4 linked regions of the Homo sapiens genome follow. The protein of the gene in region 3 interacts with the protein of the main gene of each other region in a pairwise test. Each region holds a gene or a part of one and is shown on either strand. Other genes may lie near its edges. The genes, in order: PAX9, FAM90A1, PLAGL2 and ZNF564.

Region 1 (7,349 bases), on a different chromosome or scaffold from region 3:
GCAGGCGGAGAATTAAAAGCGGGTTTCAGACAGCAACAGGCCCCTCCCCTGCTCTCGCAAGGAGAAAGCGGGCGACGAGCGCTCGCAGCCCGTGGGGCTGATCCCACCTCCCGCAGGGCTCCGGTCGTGTCGCTGTCGGACCGCAGAACGCCGGGACGCATTTCCGAGCTCGGGCCCGACCCAACCCGCTGCCATTCTAGCTACCTAGTGGAGCCGCGGAGAGACTCTTGAACCGTGAGGCTCCTTGATGAGAAGGTGGAGAGGCTGCCGGGCTATTCTCCGAGCATCTTCCGGCCGAGCTCTGCTCCTCTCCGTGCGCTTGCGGCTTCTCCTTGGGCTAGCGCGTCCGCAGTCCCTCCAAGTCCAGGCCGCAGGTCAGTGTGCGGGCGCCTCCTGTCCTCCTCTCCCACCAGAGGACCCCTGAGGGCTGTCTCCATCCCCAATCCCCGCGACTGCTCCTTTTAGCCGCCATCCCCTCCCGCAGCGCAGATCCTGCAGGGGCCAGCGGTCCAGGGCGGACCCTCCCTCGCCCTGGGCGCGGGGCGAGCTTCTGGCTGTCACTTGCCGCTGCAGTTTCAGGGAAACTCAGCTGGCCGCTTACCCTGCAAGACGGGGACATAGCAGAGGGCCGAGTTCTGGAGAAGCTGGGCTTGTTTTTCTCTCTGCACCGCGCGCAATGCCCCAACTGACCCTGAAGGGTCTTGCCTTTACTGCATTTGCCCCCAGACGGCTAGAAGTCAATGCACTATGAAAATCCCAGTCCCGGACCTCGGACTCTGGCTGTCTTACAATCCCTGCAACTCCTCCGAGTGGACAAGAGGCGGGCACCGTCGCCTGGGCCTCGCTTGGGGGGGGGGGGTCCTGTCCCCAGCAGGGGGCAAGTTGGAGGAATCAGCTCCTTAATATTTTCTGCTAGCTCTGCTTGTCATAACTGCAACTCGGAATAGAACAACCTCTCTCCCGTGCATACGCACCCCCAACTCTCGCCCTATCCTCCCATCCACAGTCATCACTGACCTGTAGACCCGGAGGAGCAGGCTTCCGGGGGTCGGTCCAGGTTGGGGATACAGGGAGGGGTCCTCGCGTTCCGCACAACCTGTAGTGCTTGGGTCTGACTTCGGCAGCCCTCGGGTACAGTCTGCCGGGCTAGATTCCCGTTGCTTCTCCGCGTCTCTCCGCGGGCCGCTCTAGCGCCGGGAAGGGGGCGCCGCAGGTGACTGCCCGCGGCACTGGGACGGCTGACAGATTTATGGAGACTTCACAGCATCTGGCTGGGGTCCGCGAGGGCAGGGCGGAGTCCGGTCGATCCGATGCTGGGGTCTAAAGCTTCCCCAGCCACACGCCTGGGCCGAGTCGCCCCCAGAGTCCCCGGCCCCTGCTCCCCTTGGGCGGGTGTACACAAGGATCCGGCCAGCGCCGAGTGTACTGGTTCCTCCCACCCAGTGTAGCCCCCTCCTTCACACTCTCGGCCCGGCTTCCAGTCTCCCACTGAGTAAATATTTATCCAGAGAGCGAGTCGCCCCTCGGAGGAGGCCTCGACGCGGCTAGGGAAAGGCTTTTTGGCTTCTCCCTGGCCTGAGCCAGCTGCAGGCCTTACTGGTGTTTTGGTTTTGGTCTTAAATTTCTCCTTTTAGTCGAAATTCTTCCGATCTCTTTGAGATCTTCTGAGTCCAGAGTGAGCAGTGTAACCAGGCGGCAGACTCCAGCTGACCCTTGTTCTTGTTCTAGGTCCTGCATCCTTACATTCATCGGGACTGACCAGACCTTAGTGTTCTCTCTTTTCCTTCCTTCATCCTCTTTCTCTGCCTCAGATCCGTCGTCTCTCGGTCGGTCTCAGCGGGTCGCTGACTACCTCGCCCTAGCACTCGGTCCGCGCCCCGGGAAGGCTTCAGCATCACCCTCTTCTGCTGGGATCCCGCTGACCCTGTCTGCAGCTTCGGCTTCTCTTGCTCCCAGAGCGGGGTCTTCGGCTTGCCGCGGATACTTAGTGGCCCAAAACACCTAAAATTGACTCTTCCTGCGCTCTTGAGAATGCCAAGAGCACCCAGTACCTGCAACCGCCGGCATGAGTGGGGCCTGCGGGGAGCCGCCAGAGCTGCGGACAGGCCCCCTGCCCACTGAGTTGCTACCCCTGGCACGCCCAGGGGATCCGCAGCAGCTGAGGCCACATGGTCACAGCCAAGTTCAGCAGGTGGAAAGGGAGAGATGGCATTGAACCTATGTGAGAACTGGGAAGATGTGTGGCAGCTGAAGGAGTTGGTAGGAACAAGAGGGAGTTGTATGTTACCTCCATATAACCAGAGCTCTAAACCATATCAGTTTCTGAACCAGTCTAGGCTGGTGCTGCAGAACTGCTAAAGCTCTCGCAGAGTCCCCAGACCCCCCGCGGGACATGAGGTCTTGCCTGTTCGTATGCGAACATCCTTGTACCCGCCTAGCAGCCCTGCAGACTGCAAATTTTCCCTGGGTGCACGGAAGTAGAGCAGATTTGGCGCAGAGGTCGATACTCACTGCCTGTCTGTGAGGGGGGAGGAGGATTCCTTCCTGGTCAAGTTGCCGGGCATGTTCATTCCCTCCCGCAAGCCTAAGGCAGAGTCATAAGCTCCCCTACGATGCGGCAAAGTCTCAACTAATTTATCTACCAGCCTTAAGAAGGAGCTGCTGCTTCTAAAATCTTTAGATTTCCGAAGGCTCTCCTTGTGTAAAAATGCCAGGCGGTGCCACACGATGTCACCCAACAGGTATTGGAGGTCAGACCAGGCTGAAATTGCTATCAAGTCAAACTTCAAGAAGATTTTAAACATTTGAAACCAACCAACAAAAAGGGACAAGTTCAAGTATGTCTAGTTGTGGGATTTCCCCCAAGATTCCGATTCTAAAGAGTGGTGTTTTAGTTCATCTTTACCTTTCACATCCTCCATTCTGTTAGGTAATTTTGAATTTAGAGTGCATCCTAACCATAGAAGTGGGAATCTGGAGATCTGTTCCTTTGCAGAAGCATGGCTGATCATAGTTTTTTCCTGGGTTCTTGCAACTTACTGACCTGAGATCTGGGACCAGTCAGCTTCTCTGGGTGTAGACCGCAGCCACACACATCCCTGGGGACTGTTGGGGAAGCAGCCTGAATCCTGTGTGCACAAGGAGCCTTCTGGATTGTCAAGTAGCAGTAACAGAGTTCACGACCCCAAGCAGTACAAACTCCCAAATTCACGAAAATATTTCTCTTCTTGTTTATTATTTTGATTCACATTCTCCACAACCCTAACTGCAAATATTAATAACTTTGGCTGCAAAAAAGCATACGGTACACTTTAGATTAGACTTACAGTGAATAAAAGTGAAAATTCAGAAGTAGGCAGAACGACAGGGCCTCTGGAGCTTAATGGAAGACGAGGGAATTACATCCATGTGCAGCGTCGGTGTCCACTGTCTTGGGACTAAGTCTCTTTCATATTTAAACAAAACTCTTTCGAGAGGGCTCGCTGGTTTGGAGAACCCTCACAAACGCTGCCACCGAGGGCCAGGGGCCCAGGACAGTGGCTGAATGTGGCAGAGCCTTGGGCTCCGTAGTGAGTGCCCCACGCACTGGCAATTGGTCGACTTGGGGCTGTGCGCTAGCGTTAGCCGCCTGTGGTTCAGTTCCCCGCACACGGCGTGGCCCGTGCCTCGAGCCTGTGTGGCTAGTGGTTGGCCGGTCCACCTGGACTGGGGGGTCGCCGCAGGAAGCTGGCGGTAGGAGGAACCTCCCTGGCCTTAACAGTGGCCCCCACCTGTGGCTCGGGCTCCCCGCAACCTCCTGGTTTCTTTGGCCGGCCTATCTTCTCACACCTGCGCTCTCGCCACCTGGCATGGACTGAAGTGAGGTAGAATCGGCAGGTGACACAGATCCTCTCCTGACAGTCCCCAGAGGCCCGCATGACAGATTTTGCTAAGACAACTCCCTCACCCCTGTGCACGGTGGCGCCCGCCTCCCACCTATAGCCTTAACTTCAATTCTGAGATGTCCATCGTTCCCCGGAGGAGGTCTCCTCGGGCCCCTTCTCCCTTCGAGTCATTCACATTCAGACCAAACGCTTTCATTTGTTTATTCAGCATTTTACCAGCCTGATTTTGCTGTCTTTTTGTGCCGCTTCTGGGAAGATGTCAAACACCCATTTTCATTGTATTTAGTCACCCAGGTGGGGAGCTAGCCTGAAAGAGACAGCGGAAGGAGTTTCCTGGACTGCGCTGTCGCTCACCGACCCGCACCAATCACCATGCAGCTTGCCCTCGGACCCGCCCCTTTTAGGGCGTGTCCCCAGTGAGTGATAGACGGAGCCGCCCTGCCCTGCTCAGCCCAGCCCACGTTGCTGCTTAGATTGAAATGCAGAACTCAAGCCTCTTTCATCGGGGCACAGACTTCCTTTTACTTCTTCCTTTTGCCCTCTCGCCTCCTCCTCCTGGGAAGAAGCGGAGGCGCCGGCGGTCGGCCGGGATAGCAACAGGCCGGGCCACTGAGGCGGTGCGGAAAGTTTCTGTCTGGGAGTGCGGAACTGGGGCCGGGTTGGTGTACTGCTCGGAGCAATGGGTGAGTGGCGGCGGGGGACTCTGTCAGAGCCGGGAAGGGAGGGAGGGAGCGAGCGGGCAAGGGAGGGAGGGAGGGAGGGAGCGCGAGGGCGCGCGCCACTAGGCGCTCACATTCTCTATTGACTTTGCTCGTGTTCCTACAAGTTGTAGGAACACGCTAAGGGTCAGCGGCGCACAGCAGTTCAATGTGAACGCTGGCTACTGGGTGGCTGTTGATGCCATTTTCTGATTTTAAGAGAAGGGAGCTGTGGCATCAGCGAGCCCCTCAGCCCGAGTAGCAAACCAAGTTTTGTTTCACACGCGCGCACACATGCAAACAAAACAGGAAAAGAAAAGAAAAGAAAACAAACAACAACAAATAAAACACCCTCTAGCTTCCCCTAGACTTTGTTTAACTGGCCGGGTCTCCAGAAGGAACGCTGGGGATGGGATGGGTGGAGAGAGGGAGCGGCTCAAGGACTTTAGTGAGGAGCAGGCGAGAAGGAGCACGTTCAGGCGTCAAGACCGATTTCTCCCCCTGCTTCGGGAGACTTTTGAACGCTCGGAGAGGCCCGGCATCTCACCACTTTACTTGGCCGTAGGGGCCTCCGGCACGGCAGGAATGAGGGAGGGGGTCCGATTGGACAGTGACGGTTTGGGGCCGTTCGGCTATGTTCAGGGACCATATGGTTTGGGGACAGCCCCAGTAGTTAGTAGGGGACGGGTGCGTTCGCCCAGTCCCCGGATGCGTAGGGAGGCCCAGTGGCAGGCAGCTGTCCCAAGCAGCGGGTGCGCGTCCCTGCGCGCTGTGTGTTCATTTTGCAGAGCCAGCCTTCGGGGAGGTGAACCAGCTGGGAGGAGTGTTCGTGAACGGGAGGCCGCTGCCCAACGCCATCCGGCTTCGCATCGTGGAACTGGCCCAACTGGGCATCCGACCGTGTGACATCAGCCGCCAGCTACGGGTCTCGCACGGCTGCGTCAGCAAGATCCTGGCGCGATACAACGAGACGGGCTCGATCTTGCCAGGAGCCATCGGGGGCAGCAAGCCCCGGGTCACTACCCCCACCGTGGTGAAACACATCCGGACCTACAAGCAGAGAGACCCCGGCATCTTCGCCTGGGAGATCCGGGACCGCCTGCTGGCGGACGGCGTGTGCGACAAGTACAATGTGCCCTCCGTGAGCTCCATCAGCCGCATTCTGCGCAACAAGATCGGCAACTTGGCCCAGCAGGGTCATTACGACTCATACAAGCAGCACCAGCCGACGCCGCAGCCAGCGCTGCCCTACAACCACATCTACTCGTACCCCAGCCCTATCACGGCGGCGGCCGCCAAGGTGCCCACGCCACCCGGGGTGCCTGCCATCCCCGGTTCGGTGGCCATGCCGCGCACCTGGCCCTCCTCGCACTCCGTCACCGACATCCTGGGCATCCGCTCCATCACCGACCAAGGTAGGGGCTCAGAGGCTGGGCGTGTGGATGTGCAGCGTCTGCCCCCGCACTCTCGCGGAGGTCCCAGTATCTGCAGCCTCAGGGACACTGTCTTTCCCACCACCTGAGGCTTTTTCCTTTGGAAACGTAAGGAGTCTTCCTAGGGGGTGTTCTGATCTCATTAACTTGAAACTCATGCCCCTGGTTTCCTTGCCACACACAGTCTTCTGCCTCATCTCAAACTACCAGACCCATAACATCCCCCCATCCCCAACACATGGTTCGCATTTTCCACCCTCCCCCGCCTCTCGCGCCGAGGCAGCCTCAGCCCGGCTTGCTCACTTGGAGAGTGCGGCCGGGGCTGGACTTGGGGCGCAGCCCGGGAGGCCCGAGCCTGCTTGGGGCTGCCGGCTGCAGACTCCGCTGTGGGCAGAGCAGCTTGCTTGGGGATCACTACGGCCGGGAGAAGTCTGGCCGGGAGGAGTCCAGCACGCCTTGGAAATTGAAGTATTCTCCGATTCTGGTAATCAGGCCAAATTTGCTCAGGCAGGAAGTTCAAATGTCACCTAATTGGTTTCGTTCTTATGCTTCACTTCATTTTCCTCGGAAATGGAGGTCCCGAAGTTACTACTAGTAACTTGCATGTAACTCATTCCCAGACGAAGTCATATTCACATTCTCTCTCTCTCTCTTTCTCTCTCCATTCACTTTCTAACTTAACAGACTTCACTGTATATATCTTAGGAAGGGAAGTGGCATCAGCCACTGCAGTGATGGAGATAAAATGCAGGCAATTCCATGCTGTCCTTTTACTGTTCTTTTCAGTTTTCCCTGAGCCTGCCACTTTCCTTTGGGGTCCCCGGGTCCCCGGGTCCCCGAGAATGCAAGTGGATATCTATCTAGTTCCTGCATGTTTTAAGCAGTGCCACCCCACTGTTTCTTTCCTTTCTCACCCCTGACCTTGCCTAGTCCTAAGCGTCCTTTCTGCCTTGTCAGAAGGATTCCCCGAGCCCTCCTGCCCAGTCCGGCTTCCGCAGGAGACCTGAGTTTGTTTTCTTTTACTGAGTTTTTTTTTTTTTTTTTAAGGCGTTAACTTTTTTCTTGGTAGGGAGAAAAGAAAGTCTGAATGACCTAGATGCAGAATTTAAATAATGTGTAGATAGTCCACTTTCTTAATTTCTCAGCCTAAAGTTTTAAAAGTGTAGAGGAAAAATTAAATAGGAAAGGGGGAAATAGTTTCTTTAATTACTTCCTGCCTTTCTTGGTTGCCACCACATTGGCACAATTATCTTTTTAAGTAATTAAAGCAGGGCTCTGATTTCTCATCTTCTTGTTTTCTGACTGCAAGTTTACAAGAGCCCAGTTTTGTCTTA
Region 2 (7,665 bases), on a different chromosome or scaffold from region 3:
AATCCAACCCAGTCTCTGAGGACCGTGTGACACCCCGTCCCCCCGCCCCCACCCCCACCCCAATACCCAAGAGATCCAGGGCTAGACTTACCCTGGGATCTTCTTCATCGGGCGGGGGAGCCCTTGGCCCAACTGGGGCCCTCCGCTGCTTCTGGAGGGTCTGGGCTCTCACCAGTCTCTTTGCCCCAGGTTTGGGGTCACGACGTGCCATCATCTTCGTCTCCTGGGGGTTTTATGACCGCCTTTTTCAGGGGTTGATTGTCGGGTCACCTGAAACACACACAAACACACACAAGTCGATGGTTAAGCACATTGGATATTCACACACCCACAGGAAGCCCCCCGCTAATTCCTTGCCGGTGTGGTCATGAGGAGACCTCACCACCAGTCGGTCAAATCTGTGGAACACAATGTGCTGTGTGCATCCTCAGATATTGTGTGTTCCTCTGCCATGATTACCTAGTCCAAGAGTAAACCTCGCCTGCCACAGGGCCCGTGGCCTAGGTATGGGGAGTTGAGCTTTCAACCCCAAACTAACAACTGATTCTGGAGACTGGACTTAGGTCTATCACGATTCACTCCGGTAGAAGACACGATGACTCTATCTCCCTTGACCGACAGAATGATCGAAGCCACAGGGCATGGCGTGTGTCACCCTTTGGCAGGTCTGTTTGAAATCTGGGATAAGGGATGCCTCCTGTCACAACTTGAATCGCTACTCTTGCCGTTTCATTAGGCAACTTCCAAACACAAATTCATAGAGAGAAGTTATCTTCCTCTCTACCACACTAGCAGGTGATGGTCTTTCCTGTTCTATCTTTTTGGCTTTAGCTCCAGCCCCTCTTTATTTATTTTTCTGGTATTTTACGCATGCCACACGAATTCATCTAAACGAACGGTGAACAAGTGCCATATCGTATCAATGTCTTACACGGCTGAAGGGCAAACCACCCTTTTTTCCAAAGTCCTTTTTCCATTTACCCACCAATTCAGCATGCTGCAGTACATTTCTTTTCGCATTCCCACCTTGGTCTTATCCCACACATGGAGACGGAAATGCTTTCTCGTTTTCTGTTCCAAGAATTACTAGTAACGAGAGCACACCCTACCGCATCAGCAAGCCCCAGTGTGATCGCTTTCTTTCGGCCTCCTTTGTCTCTTTTCCCCCCCACCCCTCAGGGATTGCGTGAAACAAACAACTGTTCAGTGAAACTAACCTGAAATTACACGTCTACTTTCTTTCCCCGGCTGGCGCTGAGATGGGCAGGTGCTGGAGCAGCCCCGCTGGAAGCGATGCAGCATCCAGGAAGACGGAGGAAGGGGCAGAGAGGGACCTCTGCTTTCCAGGCTGCCTTTTATACTGCCTCTGGTCACCTGACGTGGAACGTACCCTAACCTAATCAGTTACATGTAGGTTAATTACAATTAACTTAATCCAATTACATGACTCGGAAAGGTCTATCTGCACAGCCCACTCTAAGATCATGTCCACTGCTGACAGACATTCTAAAACCTACGTGTACAGCTGCAAGCTTTGAAGAATAGATGTTCCCCGTCAGATATGTAACACTGGTGCCTGTACCCCTGTCTTCTTTTCCATCTTTTTTGTTTTTGTGTTTTGTTTTGTTTTAAAAAATGTGGTAAAATAGACACCTTTTAATTGGACCATATTTACTCTATCTCGACGTAGGCCTCCGTGTCATCATGGAGATTCTCCTTGACATGCAGTCACGGCCATGATCCATCTTCAGAGCTTCTCTTTCTTCCCCACGGTAGGTCTGTCAGCAGAGAACCCTGACCACACACTCATGTGTTTTCTCCTCCAGAATGCGCTTGGAAACCACCGTGAATTGGAGCGCACTGGGAAACACAGATGAAGAAAGTCAACACCGCTTTGTCCTTCAGTGCCTGGCTCCCTTTTCAGCTGGTCTTGAGACTCCAGGCATTGGAGTCCAGGGAGGGGCACGCCGCCTTTACCTTGTGCTTCCCACGATCTTGTCTCCTTAATCCCCACTGCAGCTCTCTGCCATAGGGTCTTATACTGCTTTACATGTGGGAAACTGAAGCTCAGAGGGTTTCACAGCAGGGCAGGGAGCCCAGATGTGAATCTGTACATACCAAGCTTTCTAATTTTTCAGTAGTTTCCAAGCATCTTTTTTTTTTTCTTGTTTCTTCATTGATGTCTTTTTTTTTTTTTTTTTTTTTTTTTGAGACACAGTCTCTGTCGCCCAGGCTGGGGTGCAGTGGTGTGATCTCAGCTCACTGCAACCTCCGCGTCTCACAGTCAAGCAATTCTCATGCCTCAGCCTCCCGAGTAGCTGGGACTACAGGTGCCCACTACACCCAGCTTATTTTGGTATTTTTAGTAGAAACAGGGTTTCACCATGTTGGCCAGGCTGGTCTTGAACTCCTGACCTCAGGTGATCCACCTGCCTTGGCCTCCCAATATGCTGGAATTATTGATATGAGCCATTGTGCCCGGTCATGTCATTGTTGCCTTAACCAAGCCTCTTTTAATTTTTCAAACGGAAGAGCCCCTGTCCCTCAGTTACTGCTGCTGAGCCCTTTCAAGATGACTCAGTGAGGAGGGGGAAAAGCAGAAGCGGTGTGGGAAGAGGCGGGGTCTGGGCCAGCTGCTGGTCCTGCTCTCCTCCCTCCTTTGGCCTCTAGGCTCCCAGGAGTGGTTTGGAACCTGCGCCGTGTGCTCTGGGGGCTGTGGCAGGGCAGGGGCGGCTTGGAACCTGCGCCATGTGATCTGGGGGCTGTGTCAGGGCAGCGGGAGTCCTCGTGTCCCCTGCGCACAACACAGACAGAAGGCTGGGTCCACCCAGTGGGCGGTCGGGTGCCAGGCCAGTGCTTACCCCGCCATGTTTTCAAGCCCGAGGCCAGCTGGCTGCAGGTGCAGGGCTATGCGTCAGGGGTCAGGGTGCACACATCCCTGCAGGTCTCGGGGCTCCTGGGTTGCTTCTGGAAGGGCCCGGATGGGGCCTGACTGGAGCTGCCGAGGGGTGGAGCTTCTGGGAAAAGGATCCCTCCTAGGGGGAGTGTCTTGGGCCTGGGGCCACGTGGCACGGAGAGAGACGGGTCCATGGCAGTGTCTGCTTTTCTCTGTGAAGGCAAAGGGCCTCTGAGGGAGTATTACAGCCGCCTCATCCACCAGAAGCATTTCCAGCACATCCAGGTCTGCACCCCCTGGCTGGAGGGCCGAGGACTACCCCCGCTTCTAGGTGAGAGGCCAGCAGGAGGCTCAGGGAGGACGCGGGGCCTTAAGCAGGGGGAACAGGGGTGGGCAGGATGTACTTTTTTCAGAAAAGGTGGCTCTGGAGGCCACTTGGGGACAGGACCTGGGCTCTAGCTGAACTCCCGGGAGGAGGCTACTTCCTGGTGTGCCAGCCCCTCCCTGCCAGGTGGCCCCAGAGGCCCTTTACCAAGGGGTTTGAGGAGGCCACGTCCTTTCAGTCTGCCACGCCCTCCATTCAGTCCTCTTCCTTCCTGCAGGAGGGCTGGGCCTGGGGTTGGGGCCACTGTTGCCCAGGTGTGGGAGGGCAGTGGCTTTGGGAGGTACAGGGACGATGTGTCAAACAGCGTCGCCTCTCCCAGTGCGATGGTTCTCCTTTGCCTCCGTCTCTTTCCGCGTTGATTTCTCCAAGTGGGGAGTCGTGGCTTGGTCCTGATGCGTCTCTAGAGCCGCATCTTCCAGCTTCGAGTGAGCAGAGCAGTTGGAGTCTGAGGGCCTTTTCCTGGCAGGATTCTCCAGCTAGTCTTTGTTTTAGACAGTCTTGCTCCGTTGCCTAGGCTGGAGTGCACGATCTCAGTTCATGCAACCTCCGCCTCCTGGGTTCAAGCGATTCACCCACCTCAGCCTCCCAAGTAGATTACAGGATTACAGGAGCCCGCCACAACACCTGGCTTATTTTTGTATTTTTAGCAGAGACAGGGTTTCACCATGTTGGCCAGGCTGGTCTTGAACTCCTGACCTCAAGTGATCCTCTCGCCTTGGCCTCCCTAAGTGCTGAGATTCCAGGCCTGACCCATCATGCCTAGCCCCAGCTAGTCTTTAGAAATGTTAAGCTATTTGGCTTTATTTTCACACTGACAGCTGGTTTGTGGTGGGTGTGATGTGGTTTATTATTATTATTATTATTATTATTATTATTTTGAGACGGAGTTTCGCTCTTGTTATTATTATTATTATTATTATTATTATTATTATTATTATTATTTTGAGACGGAGTTTCGCTCTTGTAGCCCAGGCTGGAGTGCAATGGCGCGATCTTGGCTCACTGCAACCTCTGCCTTCCCGGGTTCAAGCGATTCTCCTGCCTCAGCCTCCTGAGTAGCTGGGATTACAGGCACCTGCCACGAATTAGCTTCGCTAATTTTGTATTTTTTTTTAGTAGAGATGGGGTTTCACCATGTTGGCCGGGCTGGTCTTGAACTCCTGACCTCAGGTGATCCACCCGCCTTGGCCTCCCAAAATGCTGGGATTACAGGCGGGAGGTGAACCTGGGAGGTGAAGGTTGCAGGGAGCTGAGATTGTGCCACTGCACTCCAGCCTGGGTGACAGAGTGACACTCTGTCTCAAAACAAAACAAAACAACAACAACAAAAAACAAATTGTGGCTATGTAGAAAAAGTGTCAACTTACATTTTCAGATGTCCCACCCAGGCCGTGTGGCTGCTTGGCCACCTTAAGCCACTTGTGCTTGGGGTTGTCGGGGACCTTATCCAATTTTCACTCCCCTCGGGGGAAGTTGTCTCACTGTGCTGGGAGGATTTGTGTTCCCAGGGCAGAGACCAGCGCTCTGACCCACCCCTCTTGCCTAGCAGGGTTAGTGGACCTGGGTGTCTCTCTGGACACATCCTCCAGTGGCCTGGACCTGCCCATGAAGGTGGTGGACATGTTCAGGTGCTGTTTGCCTGCGTGTGCCGTGAACTTCAAGTGGTAGGAGCAGAACCCCAATCTTTCTGGGGATAGCTTCACAGATCCACCACTGAGGGGGAAGCAGTGCAGAGTGAGCTGCCCACAGTGAGGCCCTGCCCCTCGGTCAGTCCAGCACACACTGGAGGCCACGAGGAGGAGCCCTGCGGTTGCTGTGGCTGGGCTGAGCCTCACTGAAGTAGTTGCTTCCATTTAGAGCTCATGTTATATTTAGGTTGGTACAAAAGTAATCACGGTTTTTGCCATTAAAAATGGCAATTACTTTTGCACCAACCCAATATGAAAAAAAAAAGTACCTTAAATACAAGAACTCCACTCGGGGCTTTTGCTCCTAGAGTAGAATTGGCGGGAATTGCCTGCAGGCTTACATGGTTTTCTTTGTTTTTCTCTCCCACCATGTCCCTTTTGGCCAAGCTCACGTGCTGGGTTTGAACGAGTTAAATGAGTGTCATGCTGTGGCCTCACTGCACCCAGCATAGACGGGTGTTTGGAAGGGCGGCGTTAGAGGAGATTCTAGAAGCAGTAGCCCCAGCACAAGTTGAGCCCTTGGCCCCTGCTCAGGAGCCAGCTCCTGGATGGGATTCAGGGATGCGAGCCCCTCATGTGAGCTGAGCTCAGGGAATGTCGGGATCAAATCTGGTGTCCTAGAAAAGTCATCTTTTATGTGCTGAACCAGTCCCCAGGGGGTTGCCTTTACTTGTTCCATGGCCATGGAATTAAGAAAAACATGCAAAAATAATTCTTCAGTCCTTGAAGAGCATCCAGCACAGAAGGTACAAACCTTCCTTAAGGCTCTCTCCTCAAATCGATTTGGTCATTTTGATGTGCACCCCCCCCAGGCCTTTATACCCTTCAGATGCCAAATCTAAGAACCAGCTCCCAGAAACCACACCCCCTGTTCCAACCCCCAGCCTGGCTTGAGCGTGGGGTGGGTGGGAGCCCAGCTGGGCACCCCAGGGGTCTGGTGTCTTCCCCAGGCAGCTCTCAGGCTCCCTTGGTTCTCTCTGCAGTTTACATGAGCTGGTGAAACATAAAGAAAATGGCCTGGTCTTTGAGGACTCAGAGGAACTGGCAGCTCAGCTGCAGGTAGCCATGTCTGCCACCACGCCAGGGTGGACAGGGTTCTGGAGACTGACATCGAGCCACGCTCCCTGATCCCTGCTTCACACAGCCAGGGTGGGACCATGCAGGGTCTGGTGGAAAAGCTAGGGAGGGAGCAGAAGTCACAGAGGCTTCCTACTCTGCTGTCCTGTTTCGGTACAGTAGGCTCGGGAAAATTAGGACACACCCCCACCTGCCCTCTGGATTTATGGAGCTGAGACTCCACAAATGATGCTGGAGCCGGGTGGGCCGGGCTGCAGTTTAGGAAGTGATCAGGATCAGGTAGGTGCGTGGGCAGAGGGAACTTCTGGGATCAGCCTTGAAAGATGGGTGGAATTCTGCAAAGGTTACTTGTTTCTTATTGCAAAAAGTAATACACCATTCTTGTCAACAGAATGATTGGGAGGATTTTCAGTAAAGGTCCAGGTCAGAAGTCATTTAGACAGGGTCCCCCAGTCTCTGTCAGAACCATGGTACTCTGTTGTGGTGTGAAAGTAGCCACAGATCATCTGTAGATTAAGGGGTGTGGCTTTGTTCCAATAAAGCTTTATTTACAAACACAGGCTGTGGGCTGGCTTTGGCCTGCAGGCTGTAGTTTGTGATCCTTGATTCAGACAGTTTAGCAAGGCTGAAAAGAACACACACACCCGTTTGTTACCCACAGATGGGTGGGACTGTGTTGGCCAGAGGCCGAGAGGAGGGTGCTCACAGGGGAACGTACAGCATGTAGAGGCCGGAAGGTGCTCCAGGGCACCAAGTGTGGGAAAGTGGGACATACGGGGAAGTTTCCAGAAAGCATGATGTCACGTTGGAGGCGGAGCGCTGCTGGGTTGTGAAGGGTCTCAAGTCCAAGTGAGGGAGTTAGGGACTTGGGAGGGGTTGTTGTTGGGTCGGGGACCTGGGGTCAGCCAGGTGGTGACCTGGGATGAGATGGGGACAGGCAATGAGGTAAGCTCTGCTCTTTAGCATTTTGCAGATGCTTTTCTCAAACTCTCCTGATCCTGCAGGCAAGCTAAACCAGTTCCAGAAGAACCTGCGGGAGTCGCAGCAGCTCTGATGGGATGAGAGCTGGGTGCAGACTATGCTCCCTTTGGTTATGGACACATAACTCCTGGGCCAGAGGCTAAAACCCCAGGGCCCCTGCTGTCCTTCCCGCAGCTTCTTCTTGGAGTCTCAGGGCAAACCCTTTCGAGCAGCGCCTCCCAGTGGCCAGAAGCTGAAATGACGGCAGTGGTGCCACCTGGTGAATGACCCGGGAAGCTGTGGTGGGCCCTGATTTCTTCTTTGGAGTCTCTGAAACGCTTCCTGTCTTCTTCTGTTCTTCACGCCCCATGCCCCTGCTAGCGTATTACTGTTCTGTGACTTCCCTGTGACCTCTGCAGTACTCCTCATCCTGCATTTGGTATCCAGGTGTCACCTGTCTGCCGTGTTCCTAACACTTTGATTCCTGTCTTGAAAAAAGCACCTGCTGCACCATAAGCCCTGGGATGTGGCAGCTGCAGCGGGCTTGGCTTTCTGAGGAACCAAGTGTGTCCACGTTGGGGGAACGTCATACTTGATACACACGTTTTTATTTGCACAAAGAAAATGCTATTTTTGGAGCCAGAATTTTCATGTCTGAT
Region 3 (7,614 bases):
TTTGTCTTACATAAGCAGAAGGCCTGTTCCTTCAGACTTGTCCTTCCTCAGCAAAACTGTGAAAGAATTCTACTTCTCTTTCAAAGCTGCTCTTCTGGTCTCACATTTTAATCTTAACAACTATAGACTATAGAGAAGCTGACAGAACCTGTTTCCATAAAACAAACACAATCCTTCCCAGTTACTGGCACAACTCAGTATATTTTCAGCCTAAGATTCTTTCTAGTGCCTGATCTGAAAGGGGAAAGAACCTTGGACTTGCTATCAGAAGAGCTGCCACTTACTGGCTGGGAAACCATAGGCAGGTTACTTTATTTCTCTGAACCTCAGTTTCCTCAATTTCTAAAATACGGATTTATTTTCCTTACCTGTAAGATTCGTATAGAGGATTAAATGAAATAATACTCTTGAAAGTGGCTGATACAAAATGTGTGCTCTGAATACATGCAGTGCCTTCTCTGAGGTCTCGGCTGTGTCTGCCTCTTTTTCCGCATGAGGCCTGAATAGTACTTCTTTTTTTCCTCTTTAATGTTACTTCTCAGGCCTCAGAGTGAGTTTCCTTCCTTTCCCAACATCTCCCCCAGAATGCAGTCTTCCCCTTTTCCCTCACAACTAACCCTCGGCACATCCCCTTTAAAGAGCCCCTTACTTTACCTCCCTCCAGGCACCATCTCCTGGGCCAGAGTTCTCTCTTAAGCAGAGAGCCACTTTCCTATACTCTCTTGTATTATTAGGGCTCCATATCCCAAACAGGAATGCTTGCTAAAAACTCTGTATGGTCCTCTTTGAAAGCTGAAACTGAGACATATTTCTCCCCAGTCTGTCCGTCCCCTGTTATGGGCCATGATGCCTGCTGCTCTCTGATGAAACTATAGTTTTTATGGTGTTACATCATCTCTATAGAAACTGCGTTCTTTCTCCATTATTAGCCTGTTTCCTCATCTGTAAAGCTAAAAATACTTACCTCACAGGCTTGCTGTAAGGATTATTTTAGTGAGGTATGCAAAGGGCTCAGCACAGAGCTTGGCCTGCTAGAAGTACCCAACAAAAGAGAGCTATTATCTTTGTCTTTGTATTGAGTTGCATGTTTCCACCTTCTGCTGCCACACTCAAATTCTCCTCACTCCCCCCTAAAAAACAGTTGAGAGATAACACCCCTGCACAAGGAAAGGGTTAATCTTTGAGTGTTCTTAACTAAAGAGACCCACAGAGGATTAACAGCTCCACTTCAGTGACTACCCTAAAATAGCTTTTATCCTCCTGCCCAAGAGTTACTTGGGGATCTGAAGAACTCAATTCAACACCTGCCGGAGGAAATAGACCCAGAACGTTCCTTGGGATAGAATCTTCCCTTAAGCAGAACCCAAAATAGCAACTGGGAAATTATAAATAGACTTAGAGGAAAGAAAAAACAAAACAAAACAAAACAAAAAACAGATCCTGATCTCAGAACCAGAAACAAATCCTAAAACACACTGGTTGGCTGGAAAACAGTGAGAAGAGGGGAAATGGGAATGCTGTCGCCCCCTTCCCCCCCGCCCACTCCAGAGTGGTGGGAGAATTAAATTACAGGGAGGCTGGAGAGTCTCAATGACTTGCACCATTCCAAGAAACATCAAACAGGATTAACAGGGGTTGGATTTACTCTCAGGCTGCTAATTCTTCTGTCAGTGTAGATGGGCCCTCTTTGGAGTCTCTTTGATTCACTATTTCCTCAGATTCCTGCTGCCTCCCACTCCTGGGGAGGCCTTGAACAAATGGCTGCAACTCATCACAACCCCATTTTCATGGGGAGAAAACGTGATTCGACACCCCCGCTCCCAATCTGGTGGCCTCACCTTAGGAGAGAAAGGTTAGAAACCCAAGACCAGACTCTACACACAGTCCCATGGCTGACAGGTGGAAAAACACACAAGCCAGGAGACAGGCTAAGCTTGCAGGTGAAAGCACCGATTCCCCCACACAGGTGTCCCCATATCCTCCACCTAACAGGCCCCTTTCTCCCCACCAAGGTGGGCCACAGCCTGGTCCCAGGCCAACTTTTAGATCACCCCACTGTGGTGTGGGAAAGGTTCAATTCCCCGAGCCTGGGAGAGATGGGAGTGGATGAGGGCTGGAGAAGCAAAGGAAATCCAGGGAGAAGTCTGGAGGGAGTCTCTGGGATGGGAAGGAAGAGCGAGGATGGGAAGGAATCATGAGCAACTTTCCTGGGTCTCTAAGGGATCCCCACAAGAATGAAATGGGGGATTATAAGGGCTGGAAGGCTGGGGGGATGGGGATAGTCAGAAGTGTATCCTCTGAATTTCAAGAGGGTCTCAAAATGGGTAACGGGATGGAAGATGTCGAAAGCCTGGGAGTATGGCCACTGAGGAGGGAACTACAGGTGGGGCTTATTCGACTTCTCCAGACCCAGATATTTGAGGGAAGCCTCAAAGGGAGTTATGTAAGTCTGGAAAATGAAACAGGGTACAGAGCGGGCTATCTGGAGCAGGAAAGGGGGTTATGTGGGTCTGGGTAGGCGTGTCGGAGGGAGGGAGCAGGTGCAGCTTATCTGCGTCCCCCAGACCCGGGTCCCTGGTAAGGTCAGCAGCGCCTTATCTGGGTCTCCAGGGAGCCTAGGGGTCGGGAATGGGGGACCCTCAGGACTGCGTCTCCAGGTCTCGGAAGGGAGGGGACCGGTGGCTTCCTCGGGTCCCCCAGACACAGGTATGGGGTCCAGGGAGAGTTTTCGTCACCCCAGGGCCTATCTGGGGCCGGGTTGGCGCAGACCGGGCCCCGGGTCGGGGGTGTGGGCGACCGCGCTGAGGGGCCCGAGATGAGGCGCGCCGCCGCTCCGGGTACAGGGCGCGCGGACGCAGCGAGACGGCCTCCCGCCCCTCTCCCCGCCGTCCCCTGGGGCCCTCGCCGGCACTCACCGCGCTCGGGGCCCCACGCTGCGGGCCGGGCCGCGCTCGGGCTCCGCCAGGCCCCCTCAGGCCCCGGTAGTGGCGGCGGTCGGGCCATTGTGCGGTGCATTGTGGGAGCCGCGCGAGCGGGCGCTCGGGTCGTGGAGGGGGCGGTGCCGCGGGATCTCTATGGTCCCGCCCGCCCGCGGGCTAGAGCGGCCGGGGCGGTGCGCGGGCGGCGCGCAGGGACCGCTGGGAGCGGGGCGGGCGCTCGCGTCCCTCCTTCCCTCCCCGACTGTGCGCCGCGGCTGGCTCGGGTTCCCGGGCCGACATGGGCGCCGCCGCGTGGGCACGGCCGCTGAGCGTGTCTTTCCTGCTGCTGCTTCTGCCGCTCCCGGGGATGCCTGCGGGCTCCTGGGACCCGGCCGGTTACCTGCTCTACTGCCCCTGCATGGGTAAGGCCTCCCAAGCCCTCTGCTCAGATGGAGAAACTGAGGCCGGGAGAGGAAAAGCCACTCCTCAGATGCGCCCAGAGACACCTTCACAGGTCCAGGAGAGAACCTCAGAGCGGGACGGGGCATGCTCTTCTCCTCTCTGCCTTAGTTGCAAGGGCACAGAGGGGCCAACGTGTCCAACTTTCCATTTGACAGATGAGAAAACTGAGGCTGGGAGAGGTTACGTGACTTGCTTGAGGTCTAAGCCAGTCCAGGGTCCAGTAAATGGAGTTAGTGGGGCAGGACTTGATGTCACTGACCCACGCTGGCTCCTGGTGATTTTTCATTGATTCAGCAAATATTTATGGGGCACCTATTCTGTGCCGGGCCCTGTTCTCTGTACTGGGAATACCGCAGTGAATAAGATAAACTCCGTGTCCTTGTAGAGCCTTCATTTTAGTTGGGGAAGACAAACAATTGAGAATAAGTAGGCCAGGCGCGGTGGCTCACTTCTGTAATCCCACCACTTTGAGAGACCGAGGCAGGATCACTTGAAGCCAGGAGCTCGAGATCAGCCTAGGCAACATAGTGAAAATCCAATCTCAAAAAAAAAAAAAAAAAAAAAAAGCAGAGCGTGGTATCGTGTGCTTGTAGTCCCTTGGGAGTTATCTGGGCGGCTACTTGGGAGGCTGAGGTGGGAGGATCTCTTGAGCCGAGGAATTCGAGGCTGCAGTGAGCTCTGATCGTGCCACCGCACTGCCAGCCTGGGTGACAGAGTGAGACCCTGTCTCGAAACAAGCAAACCCAAAAAGGGGTAAACATAAAACAATAAATACATAGTTTCATAGAGGATGATGAATACTAAGGGAAAATAAAGAGAGCAGGGTAGGGGAGAATCTAAAGACCATGCCAGGTGCACAGTTGAAATGGGTATGGTGGATCATCATTGTGGAAGTGGATGATCTTAAGGCCCCCAGTGGCTTCCAGACTCCTGACCATGACTTTCAGGGCCCTGAATGATGTGGCCTCCACTGGCCATCTCCACAACTCCCTTCTCTGCTGATCCTCCAGCTGCAGCCACACTTAACTCCTTTGCGTTCCTCACACATGCTCAGGTCTTCCAGTCTGCACTGCTGCAGGTGGCGGTCCCTATGCCTGGAATCCTCTCCTCCATTTCTGCCTGACCAGCTGTTTCCCATCCTTTAGATCTCAGCCTAAATGTCACCAGAAAGGATTTCACTGACCTCTACCCAAGTAATCTCCTCATTACCCTATCACCAAACTTTTTTCATCTCTTTCTGGCAATTATCAACATTTTTCATGTATTTGTTTACATGTTTAGTGTCTCTGCAGTGAACTGTGAGTGCCTTAGGGGCAGAGGCCTTGTCCTTCTTGTTCATTCCTGTATCCCAGCACCTAGCACAGAGTCTGGCACATTGTGGCCTCTCAATCATATTTGTGAAATGAATGAACAGGTGCCATGCTGGGATTAAGAAAAGGAATCACACAGGGTCCTTGCTTCTGAGGCATTCACAGGCTGAGGAATCAGCCAGTACGAAGGCCAGGAAGTGAGCAAAGATACTTGAGGAAAATTGAAGAACTGAAGTAGCTCAGAGCCAAGGTGGGAGGTAAAGGAGGGAGAGTGAGTATGGCAGGGGATTGGTGAAAGGAGCCCAGTGAATGAGGCATTCGAGTTGCCCGTCCATGTGCAGGTGAATGGAGATAGAGGTAGAAGCTCTTCTGGCTGAGGGACAGCAAGATCAGAGGCATTGGGTGGGGATGGGAATTGTAGAGCATGTTGGGGAAACAGCAAGAAACCTGGAGTGGCGGAAGCAGTTGTTGCAGGACCTGAAGAGCCTTGGATATCAGACCCAAGAGTCCAGACTTGTTCTTATGCTGCCAGCTCCCCTAGTTCTCCTTGGTATCCCTGACTTTCTACCCCTGGCTCCACAACCTTTCTGAGCCCTGCATGCTCTATGCCCTCCATGCCCCAGGCCTCACCTCACCCGCAATGTACCATTTCCAGGGCGCTTTGGGAACCAGGCCGATCACTTCTTGGGCTCTCTGGCATTTGCAAAGCTGCTAAACCGTACCTTGGCTGTCCCTCCTTGGATTGAGTACCAGCATCACAAGCCTCCTTTCACCAACGTGAGTACTTCCCACTGACCTTGGCCTTTCTCCGCCCTTTCTCAGTCTTGCTTACTTACACTTAACCCTCAAGTCCTCTGGGCTTTACCTCCCACTCCTCTGAGATTTCCCTACCTCCAGCCAGAACTGTCTTCACTGCAATAACAATGCCTAACATTTATTTATCCAGCACCTGTTGTGTGCGGCTGCATGAGAATTAGCTCATTTCACCCTCATCACTTGCCTGTGAGGAAACCGGGGTTTACAGAGGTTAGGTAACTTGCCCAAGATCACACAGCCTGTGAGTAGGAGAGCTGGAATTCAAAGCTATCTTTGTCTGACTCCAGAGCCTGTGACTTGAACCTAAAGCCTCCATTTCCTTCCCTGATTGGTCCTACCCTCTGTGCATTCCATTGGCCAAGGGTGGCAGATGCTATTATCAATTTTAAAGGAGACATGCAGGCACAGGTTATTTAATGACATGTCCAAGGCCACAACCCAGGTAGTCTGGCTTCAGTGCTGCCTCTCACCCCATCAAGGGGCTCCCTTGTCATGCGATGCTCACCGGCCCCCAGTTCCTTGCTTATTCTTTGTGTCTTCCAGTGACCTTGTGTCGTTGTTCATATTGTATCTCCCGGAGCCTGGCAGTAGGAACTTAATTAGTATTTGATGAATTGACTTAATAATTTTCCAATAGACATCAGAAATAATACTTAGTGTGAACAAAACACTTAATTTCATTCTTACAACCTTTTCTCTGCATAGATTTTACTTTTTCCTTTGCATGCCAGTATTTACAGAGGTTTTGAGCAGCAGTCAAAAGCCAGAGTACCAGAGATCATAGTCTGACTTGGGTTCTTACTAGTTGCATGGCCTGGACAGGGTACTTTACCTCTTTGTGCCTCAGTGTCCTCATTTTAAAAATAAGCTGGTAATGATTCTTGTTACCCTCTTGTGGTAAGGACTGAATGTGTCAGTGGCAGTAACACGCCTTCAGTGTTGTCATATGCCGCCTCCCTCTTAGAATCAACTGAGCTTATCAACGTACAGATCCTAGAGTCCTCAGTTAATGGAAACCATTGATGTTCTGATAATTTCGCACTCACTATTTTTTTTTTTTTGAGATGGAGTCTTGCTCTCTTGCCAGGCTGGAGTGCAGTGGCACGATCTCAGCTCACTGCAACTTCTGCCTCCCGGGTTCAAGCGATTCTCCTGCCTCAGCCTCCTGATTAACTGGGACTACAGGCGCACCACCACGCCCAGCTAATTTTTGTATTTTTAGTAGAGACAGGGTTTCACCATGTTGGCCAGGATGGTGTCAATCTCTTGACCTCATGATGTGCCTGCCTTGGCCTCCCAAAGTGCTGGGATTATAGGCATAAGCCACTGCGCCTGGCCTCGCACTCACTATTACAGTGTAGACATTGCCCATCCATCTCCCTCTGGCTTGCTTGCCTCTGTCTCCTTGCCTTCTCAGCCAGTTGTCTTTCCAAGTCCCCACTTCCTTGCTTTCTGTGGCTTACTAACCTGCTCCAACAAGGCTCTTCTTCGCCACTGTTAGCATTCTCACTGAGGTCACCAGTGACCTCCAAATTGGCAGGGGTTATTTCCCAGTCTTTCTCTCACCTGACCTCCCACTGGCACTTGACCCTGCAAGCTTCTCCTTCCTGAACTTCCCTGTTCCAAGACACCACCTGTCCCTGCTACAATCTAACCTCTCAGCATTTTCCTCTTTCCACTGTATCAGGGGCTCCTTTCTCTCCACCCACTGTTTAGATGTTAGTGTTTCTCCTCTTTCTGTTTGCTTACTAGCTATGTGACCTCAGATGTTATCTAGATTCTGTATGCTTGGGTTTCTTCATAAGTAACCTGGAGATGGTTATATTCCTACCTCAGGATTAAATGTGCAAATCTATGTAAAGTGATGAGTGCAGTACCTAGCACTGTGTCAACATGCAATAAATATTAGTTGCTATTATTACCATTACTTGCTTTGCTATAAATATCTGTTGACTCCTGTGGCTTTTACTCTTCTCCGTGTACCTCCCAAATTTATCTGTGGCCCAGACTCAGACTCCTCCATAATTACAGGCCTGTGTTTCTTTTTTCTTTTTTTTTTTGAGACGAGGTCTCACTGTTGCCCAGGGTGAAGTGCAGTGGCATGATCA
Region 4 (7,020 bases), on a different chromosome or scaffold from region 3:
AAAATAGGTGCACTGTTTTCCATTCCCACAAGTAACAAATGAGGGTTCCTATTGCTTCACATCTTTGCCATCATTTGGTGTTCTCAGTGTTTTAAATTTTAGCCATTCTAATAAAGGTTGTGTTAGTCTTTAATTTTTAAATTTGTAATTCCCCAGTGACAAAATATGCATGTTTTCATATGTTTATATGCCATCTATATATTTTATATAATCATGTCTTATGCAGCAAAGACAATTTTATTTCTTCCTTCTAAATCGATATACTTTTTATTTCCTCTGTCTTGTTGCTTATCTAGGACTTTAAGGATGTTGTTGAATAGTAGTGGTGAGAGAAGACATTCTTACCCTGTTTCTGGTCTTGTGTAGAAAGCATCTAGTTTCTCACTGTTAAGTATGATGTTAGCTGCAGGTTCCTCATTGATGTTCTTTCTGAGGAGGAAGTTCTCTATTCCCAGTTTGCCACCGTGAGTGGATGGTAGATTTTGTCAAATGTTCTTTAGTTTTTACTTTTGCCTCCTTTCATTTCTGATCTTAGTAATTTCTTTTTTCTTACCATGACTAGAGGTTTATCAGTTTTATTGGTGTTCTCCAATAACCGACTTCTGTTTTTTTTTTTTAATCTCTATTGATTTCCTGCCATTTCATTGACTTCTCCAATTATTCTGTCTGTCTGTCTGCTTACTTGGGTTTAATTTGCTCTCTTGTTTTTCTGTTTTCCTGAAGTAGACTCTTTTCTTTTTTCTGTTTTTTTTTTTTTTTTTTTTTTTGGAGACAGCAGCCTGCTGTGTCGCCCAGGCTGGAGTGCAGTGGCATGATCTTGGCTCACTGTAACCTCCATCTCCCAGGTTCAAGTGATTCTTGTATCTCAGCCTACTGAGTAGCTGGGATTACAGGCATGCGCCACCACACCCAGCTAATTTTTGTATTTTTAGTAGAGACGAGGTTTTACCATGTTGTCCAGGCTGGTCTCCAATTCCTGGCCTCAAGTAATCTGCCCGCCTTGGCCTCCCAAATTGCTGGGATTATAGGCGTGAGCCACTGCACCCAGCCCGAAGTAGACTCTTAGATGATTCATTATAAACCCTTGTTCTTTCCTGGTGTAGGTGTTCAATGCTGTAAATATTCCTCTATGCACTGCTTTTGCTGCATACCCTAATTTTTGATAAATTTTGTTTTCATTTTCATTTTAGGTCAAAAATTATTTTTGATTTCTCAGACTTCTTTGATCCATGTGCTTATTTAGAATTGTGTTGTTTAATCTCTAAAGATTTGGGGGAGTTGGTAACTATCTCTGTTATTGATTTCTAGATGAATGACTTGTGGTCTGAGCATACTTTGTATGATTTTTTAAAATTTTTCATATTAAGGTGTGTTTTATGCCCCAGTATTTGGTTTATTTTTGTGAATATTCCTGTGAACTTGAGAAGAATTTGTGTTTTGCTATTGTTAGATGAAGTATTCCATGCATTTCAATTAAATCCAGTTGTTTGATGATGCTATTTACTTTACTATGTCCTTTCAGATTTTCTGCCTGTTGGATCTCTTAATTACTGCTGGAGGGGTGCTGCAGTCTCCAACTATACAAGTAGATTAGTGTATTTTTTCTTTGCAGTTCTATCAGTTGTATTTTGCCACATGTATTTTGCAACGCTTGTTATGCAAACACACACTAAGGGTTGTCAGGTTTTCTTGGCATGTTGAGTCCTTTATCATTATGTGATGCTCACTTATATCTCTTTATTTATTTTAAAAATTTAATTTATTTTTTTTAGAGACAGAGTCTCACTGTGTCTCCCAGGCTGGAATGCAGTGGTGTGATCATATAGCTCTTTGCAGCCTTGAACTCCCAGGCTGCAGCAATCTACCTGCCTCAGCTTCTCAAGTAGCTGACTGCAAGTTTGTGATACCCCAACTGGTTAATTAAAAAAAAAATTTTTTTTTTTTTTTTTTTTTTTTTTTTGAGACGGAGTCTCGCTCTGTCGCCCAGGCTGGAGTGCAGTGGCGCGATCTCGGCTCACTGCAAGCTCCGCCTTCCGGGTTCACGCCATTCTCCTGCCTCAGCCTCCCGAGTAGCTGGGACTACAGGCGCCTGCTACCACGCCCGGCTAATTTTTTGTATTTTTAGTAGAGACGGGGTTTCACCGTGTTAGCCAGGATGGTCTCAATCTCCTGACCTCGTGATCCGCCCGCCTTGGCCTCCCAAAGTGCTGGGATTACAGGTGTGAGCCACCGCGCCCGGCCAAAAAAATTTTTTTTTTTAAATTTTTTTTATAGAGATGAAGGTCTCGCTGTTCCCCAGGCTGGAGTGCAGGGTCTATTCACAATAAATTATAGCGCATTATATCCTTGAACTCCTGGTCTCAGGTGATCCTCCATCTCAGCCTCCTAAGTAGCTGGGACCATAGGCATGTGCCACTGCACCTGGCTTATCTCTGTGTTTTTTCCTTTCTCTGAAGTGTACTTTGTGATATTAAGATAGCCATGCCATGTTTCTTTTAATTAATGTTAGCATTTTATATATTTCCCTATCCCTTTACTTTTAATATGTGTGTCTTTGTATTTAAAGTGGTTTCCTTTTAGCCAACATACTATGTTTTTAAAATCCACTATAACAGCATCTGTCTTCTAATTATATTTGGACTATTGACATTCAAAGTGATTATTGATACAGTTGTATTAATATCTACCATATTTTTTACTTTTTTCTATTAGTTGCCCTTGCTTTTGTTTCTTTTTTTGTCTCTGACCTTCCTTCTTGGGCTTTAATTGAGCATTTTACCTGAGGTGTGACATATTTTGTAATCATATGATTTGTTAGTGAGCCTTTGTTCCTGGCCTGGGTTGTGGCCTTCTGTGGTATTGTAAGAAAGATATGTGGTCTTTTTTCCTCAGTGCCTACCATGGTTCTCCTATTTTTTTTTTTATTTTTTTTGGAGACAGAGTCTTGCCACCCAGGCTGGAGTGCAGTGGCACAATCTCGGCTCACTGCACTTTCCACCTCCCAGGTTCAAGTGATTCTCCTGCCTCGGCCTCCCAGGTAGCTGGGGTAACAGGTGCGCGTCAACATGCTTGGCTAATTTTTGTATTTTTAGTAGAGACGAGGTTTCGCCGTGTTTCCCAGGTCAGACTCAAACTCCTAACTCAAATGATCCTGACTCAAGTGAACTCAAGTGATCTGCCTGCCTCAGGCTCCCAAAGTGCTGGGATTACAGACATGAGCCACCATACCTGGCCAGCATTCAGAATTCTTGTTAAAGGTTAGGGAAGCTATCATGTTGTTCTTCAGAAGACTTTGACCATTGTTAGATATTCATTATTCCTGCTACATTTGGAGAAGAACTTTTTGTTGACTCTTCAACAGTTTTTAGGGGATTTATAGAATTTAAAAAATATTTTGTAAGAGGCTATCTTGAGGACATTTCATTCTTTCTCAGAACCCATCTTTCCAGCCAGGTGTGGTGGTTTACACCTGTAATCCCAGCACTTTGGGAGGCTGAGGCAGGAATTTGAGATCAGCTTGAGCAACAAAGTAAGACCCCATCTCTACAAAAAATTTAAAAATTAGCTAGACATGGTGTCTTGCGACTATAGTTCTAGCTACTTGAGAGACTCAGGAGGGAGGATCACATGAGCCCAGGAGATCAAGGCTTCAGTGAGCTGTGATCATGCCACTGCACTCCAGTGTGGATGACGGAGCAAGTTCCCATTTCTAAGAAAACCAAAAGAACCCATCTTTCCCCTTATTTTATTTTGCCTTGACATTACACAATGTAGTATCACATAGTGACTGGTCAGGAATCATTTCCTCTTGAAATTTGAGAAAGAGGATTTTATGTTCTTTTGGAGAAAAGCACTGCTGATCCCTTCGTGTATTTTATAATCATGGTCAAATTCACCATCAAACCATCTGGACTTGAATGAAATCCCTCAGAAATTGCAACTCTTAACCTGTTCCTCAAGGTTAGCAAGTCATAGGGTACCTTGTTATGTATCTGCCAGAAAAAACTCTTCTGGCATTTTGTCTTCTTAGTATGTTTGTGTATGTAAGGTAAAAATAGGTGGGAAACTGCCCTTGACGTTCATGACTGGGGATTTTGCTGGGTGAGGGGGCGCTGCCTAAGTTGCCATACCTTCTTCTTCATGCCTGAGTTCTGTCTTCCCAGTAGCTTCCTAGCCTAGTGAAATGGGACAGAGTCAAAGGAATCAGTGAGTCTATAACAAATGTTATACATGCAGGTTAAAATGACTTCTTTTGCAGAGGAATATTTTCTTTCAACCAACTTGATCTGTCTACGTCTGATGGCCTGGAATCCTTCAGGAAAGTGTGGTCAGCTGGATTTTGTCAGAACGTGGATTTCTACGGGCCTTCTGGCCTCTCATGTTTGATGAAGGGAACAGAAGAAAATGGTTTCACTTCTTCAGTGTATATTTATTTATTCATGGATACCTTTTTCAGTTTTTATCCTGTGTTTCTTTTTTTCTTTCTTTCTTTCTTTTTTTTTTTTTTTTTGAGACAGAGTTTTGCTCTTGTCACCCAGGCTGGAGTGCAGTGGCACAATCTCTACTCACTGCAACGTCCGCCTCCTGGTCTCAAGCGATTCTCCTTCCTCAGCCTCCCAAGTAGCTGGTATTACAGGTGCCCACCACCACGCCCAGTGAATTTTTTGTATTTTTAGTAGAGACAGGGTTTTGCCATGTTGGGCTGGCTGGTCTCAAACTCCTGATCTCAGGTGATCCGCCTGCCTCTGCCTCCCAAAGTGTTGGGATTACAGGCATGAGCCAGTGCGCCTGGCCTACCCTGTGTTTCATGGAATGCTGATTGGTGTGAGATATGAAAGGAAATGGAAGTTTTTCCTGGTAGGAATGATGATCTTAAATTTTTTTTTTTTGAGACTTAGTCTCTCTCTGTCCTCCAGGCTGGAGTGCAATGGCATGATCTCAGCTCACTGCAACCTCCGCTTCCTGGGTTCAAGCTATTCTCCTGCTTCAGCCCCCCGAGTAGCTGGGATTACAGGTGCATGCCACCATGCCCGGCTAATTTTTTTGTATTTTTGGTAGAGACGGGGTTTCACTGTGTTGGTCAGGCTGGTCTCAAACTCCTGACCTTGTGATCCTCTTGCCTCAGCCTCCCAAAGTGCTGGGATTACAGGTGTGAGCCACCAGGCCTGGCCAAAATTTGTTTTCTTTGTATAGCATTTTATTTGTTTCTCCAAGGTGAACTGGATCCTGCCATTAGAGACCAATAAAACTTGTAGTGACTACAGTAAAAATGTAGAGATCAGTTGCATGTTTTCATGGGGTAATTAAATTTATGAGAAAGTGAATGTAGACGGAATTCTGACAACCATATTTATTTATCATAAAATAAATGTTTGGAGACTGCCACATCGTTTTGTCGACTTTTTTGTTTTGTTTTTTGTTTGTTTGTTTGAGATGGGGTCTCTCTCTGTCAGCCAGGCTGAAGTGCAGTGGCGTGATCTTGGTTCACCGTAACCTCTGCCTCCCTTGTTTAAGCGATTCCCCTGCCTCAGCCTCCTGAGTAGCCGGGATTAACAGGCATACGCCACCACGCCCAGCTAATTCATATATCTGTAGTAGAGATGGGGTTTCACCATGTTGACCGGGCTGGCCTCAAGTTCCTGACCTCAGGTGATCTGTATGCCTTGGCCTCCCAAAGTGCTGGGATTACAGGCATGAGCCACCACACCTAGCCATTTGTGAACTTTTATGAATTGGGTTTACATCCCTGTACTGTCATCTCATTCTTCCTCCTGCATTGCATATTTGGGATGTTTTAGGACTCAGTGGCCTCTGAGGATGTGGCTGTGAACTTCACACTTGAGGAGTGGGCTTTGCTGGATCCTTCCCAGAAGAAACTCTACAGAGATGTGATGCGGGAAACCTTTAGAAACCTGGCCTGTGTAGGTAAGGATGACATCATTCCTTCTTTTAGTCAGTTAGAGAAGAAGTATTTCTTGCTTTTTAATGCTTTTTCATGATGTCTAATGTGGAAAAGGGAATACTTGGGTGAATAAATCAGGGTTGTTTGCACCTTATCATGAACTTAGAATCTAGTCATTTTTCTGTAATGTCTATCAGTTCATAAGGATTTTTTCTGACTATATTTTAGGAAAAAAATGGGAAGACCAGAGCATTGAAGATTGGTACAAAAATCAGGGGAGAATTTTAAGGTAATTTGCACTGACAAGATAAAGCAATGTCTCCTTCTTAGTATGTCATGAAATTTTAAAAATAAGTAAACAAACCAGTAAGCCCAGCTTCAGATTTATTTATTCCTACAACTTTTTCACCAGAAAAAGAAAAAGTGGCATAGATGTTCAGTGTTGCAAAATCATTCACTTGGAAATAGTATTAAGAAACTGTATATATGGATATCACTTTTTTGGTGATAGCTACTGTCAAGCTCTCTTGCAGAGCATTCCATCCATTCACTTTCAAACAATTCATACAGGCCTGAAAACTTACCCTTTCCGCGATTATGGTAAAAATGTAAGTCGAATACCTATTAATAAATATAAAGTCACAAACCACTAAATCTTGCTTTCTATTTTTTCCAGAAATCATATGGAAGAGGGACTCAGTGAAAGTAAAGAATATGATCAATGTGGAGAAGCCTTCAGTCAGATTCTCAATCTTAATCTGAACAAGAAAATTCCTACTATAGTAAGACCATGTGAATGTAGTTTGTGTGGGAAAGTCTTCATGCATCATTCATCCCTTAGTAGGCACATCAGATCTCACCTTGGACACAAACCATATGACTATCAGGAATATGGAGAGAAACCATATAAATGTAAGCAGTGTGGGAAAGCCTTCAGTTCTTGTCAATCCTTTCGAAGACATGAAAGAACTCACACTGGTGAGAAACCCTATGCATGTCCGGAATGTGGGAAAGCCTTCATTTCTCTCCCAAGTGTTCGAAGACACATGATTAAGCACACTGGAGATGGACCATATAAATGTCAGGAATGTGGGAAAGCCTTTGATCGCCCAAGTTTA

What was found.
Region 1: the proteins of PLAGL2 (region 3) and PAX9 interact in binary tests that used the Homo sapiens proteins (3 or more experiments, as listed by UniProt).
Region 2: the proteins of PLAGL2 (region 3) and FAM90A1 interact in binary tests that used the Homo sapiens proteins (3 or more experiments, as listed by UniProt).
Region 4: the proteins of PLAGL2 (region 3) and ZNF564 interact in binary tests that used the Homo sapiens proteins (3 or more experiments, as listed by UniProt).

What each region holds. Positions count from the first base shown.
Region 1 is NC_000014.9:36,657,527-36,664,875, forward strand, and holds the start of PAX9 (paired box protein Pax-9), read left to right. Parts: upstream 1-4,333; 5' UTR 4,334-4,563; coding exon 4,564-4,567; intron 4,568-5,370; coding exon 5,371-5,997; intron 5,998-7,349. UniProt on the Homo sapiens protein: Transcription factor required for normal development of thymus, parathyroid glands, ultimobranchial bodies, teeth, skeletal elements of skull and larynx as well as distal limbs.
Region 2 is NC_000012.12:8,224,619-8,232,283, forward strand, and holds the start of FAM90A1 (protein FAM90A1), read right to left. Parts: upstream 3,001-7,665; 5' UTR 2,862-3,000; intron 1,861-2,861; 5' UTR 1,654-1,860; intron 1,397-1,653; exon of another isoform or gene 1,375-1,396; 5' UTR 1,218-1,374; intron 271-1,217; 5' UTR 215-270; coding exon 92-214; intron 1-91.
Region 3 is NC_000020.11:32,204,726-32,212,339, forward strand, and holds the start of PLAGL2 (zinc finger protein PLAGL2), read right to left. Parts: upstream 3,019-7,614; 5' UTR 2,916-3,018; intron 1,839-2,915; exon of another isoform or gene 1,571-1,838; intron 479-1,570; exon of another isoform or gene 369-478; intron 358-368; exon of another isoform or gene 1-357. Other genes in the region: POFUT1 (GDP-fucose protein O-fucosyltransferase 1 isoform 1 precursor), read left to right, coding at 3,217-3,340, 5,346-5,467. UniProt on the Homo sapiens protein: Shows weak transcriptional activatory activity.
Region 4 is NC_000019.10:12,527,475-12,534,494, reverse strand, and holds part of ZNF564 (zinc finger protein 564), read left to right. Parts: intron 1-5,798; coding exon 5,799-5,925; intron 5,926-6,130; coding exon 6,131-6,191; intron 6,192-6,578; coding exon 6,579-7,020.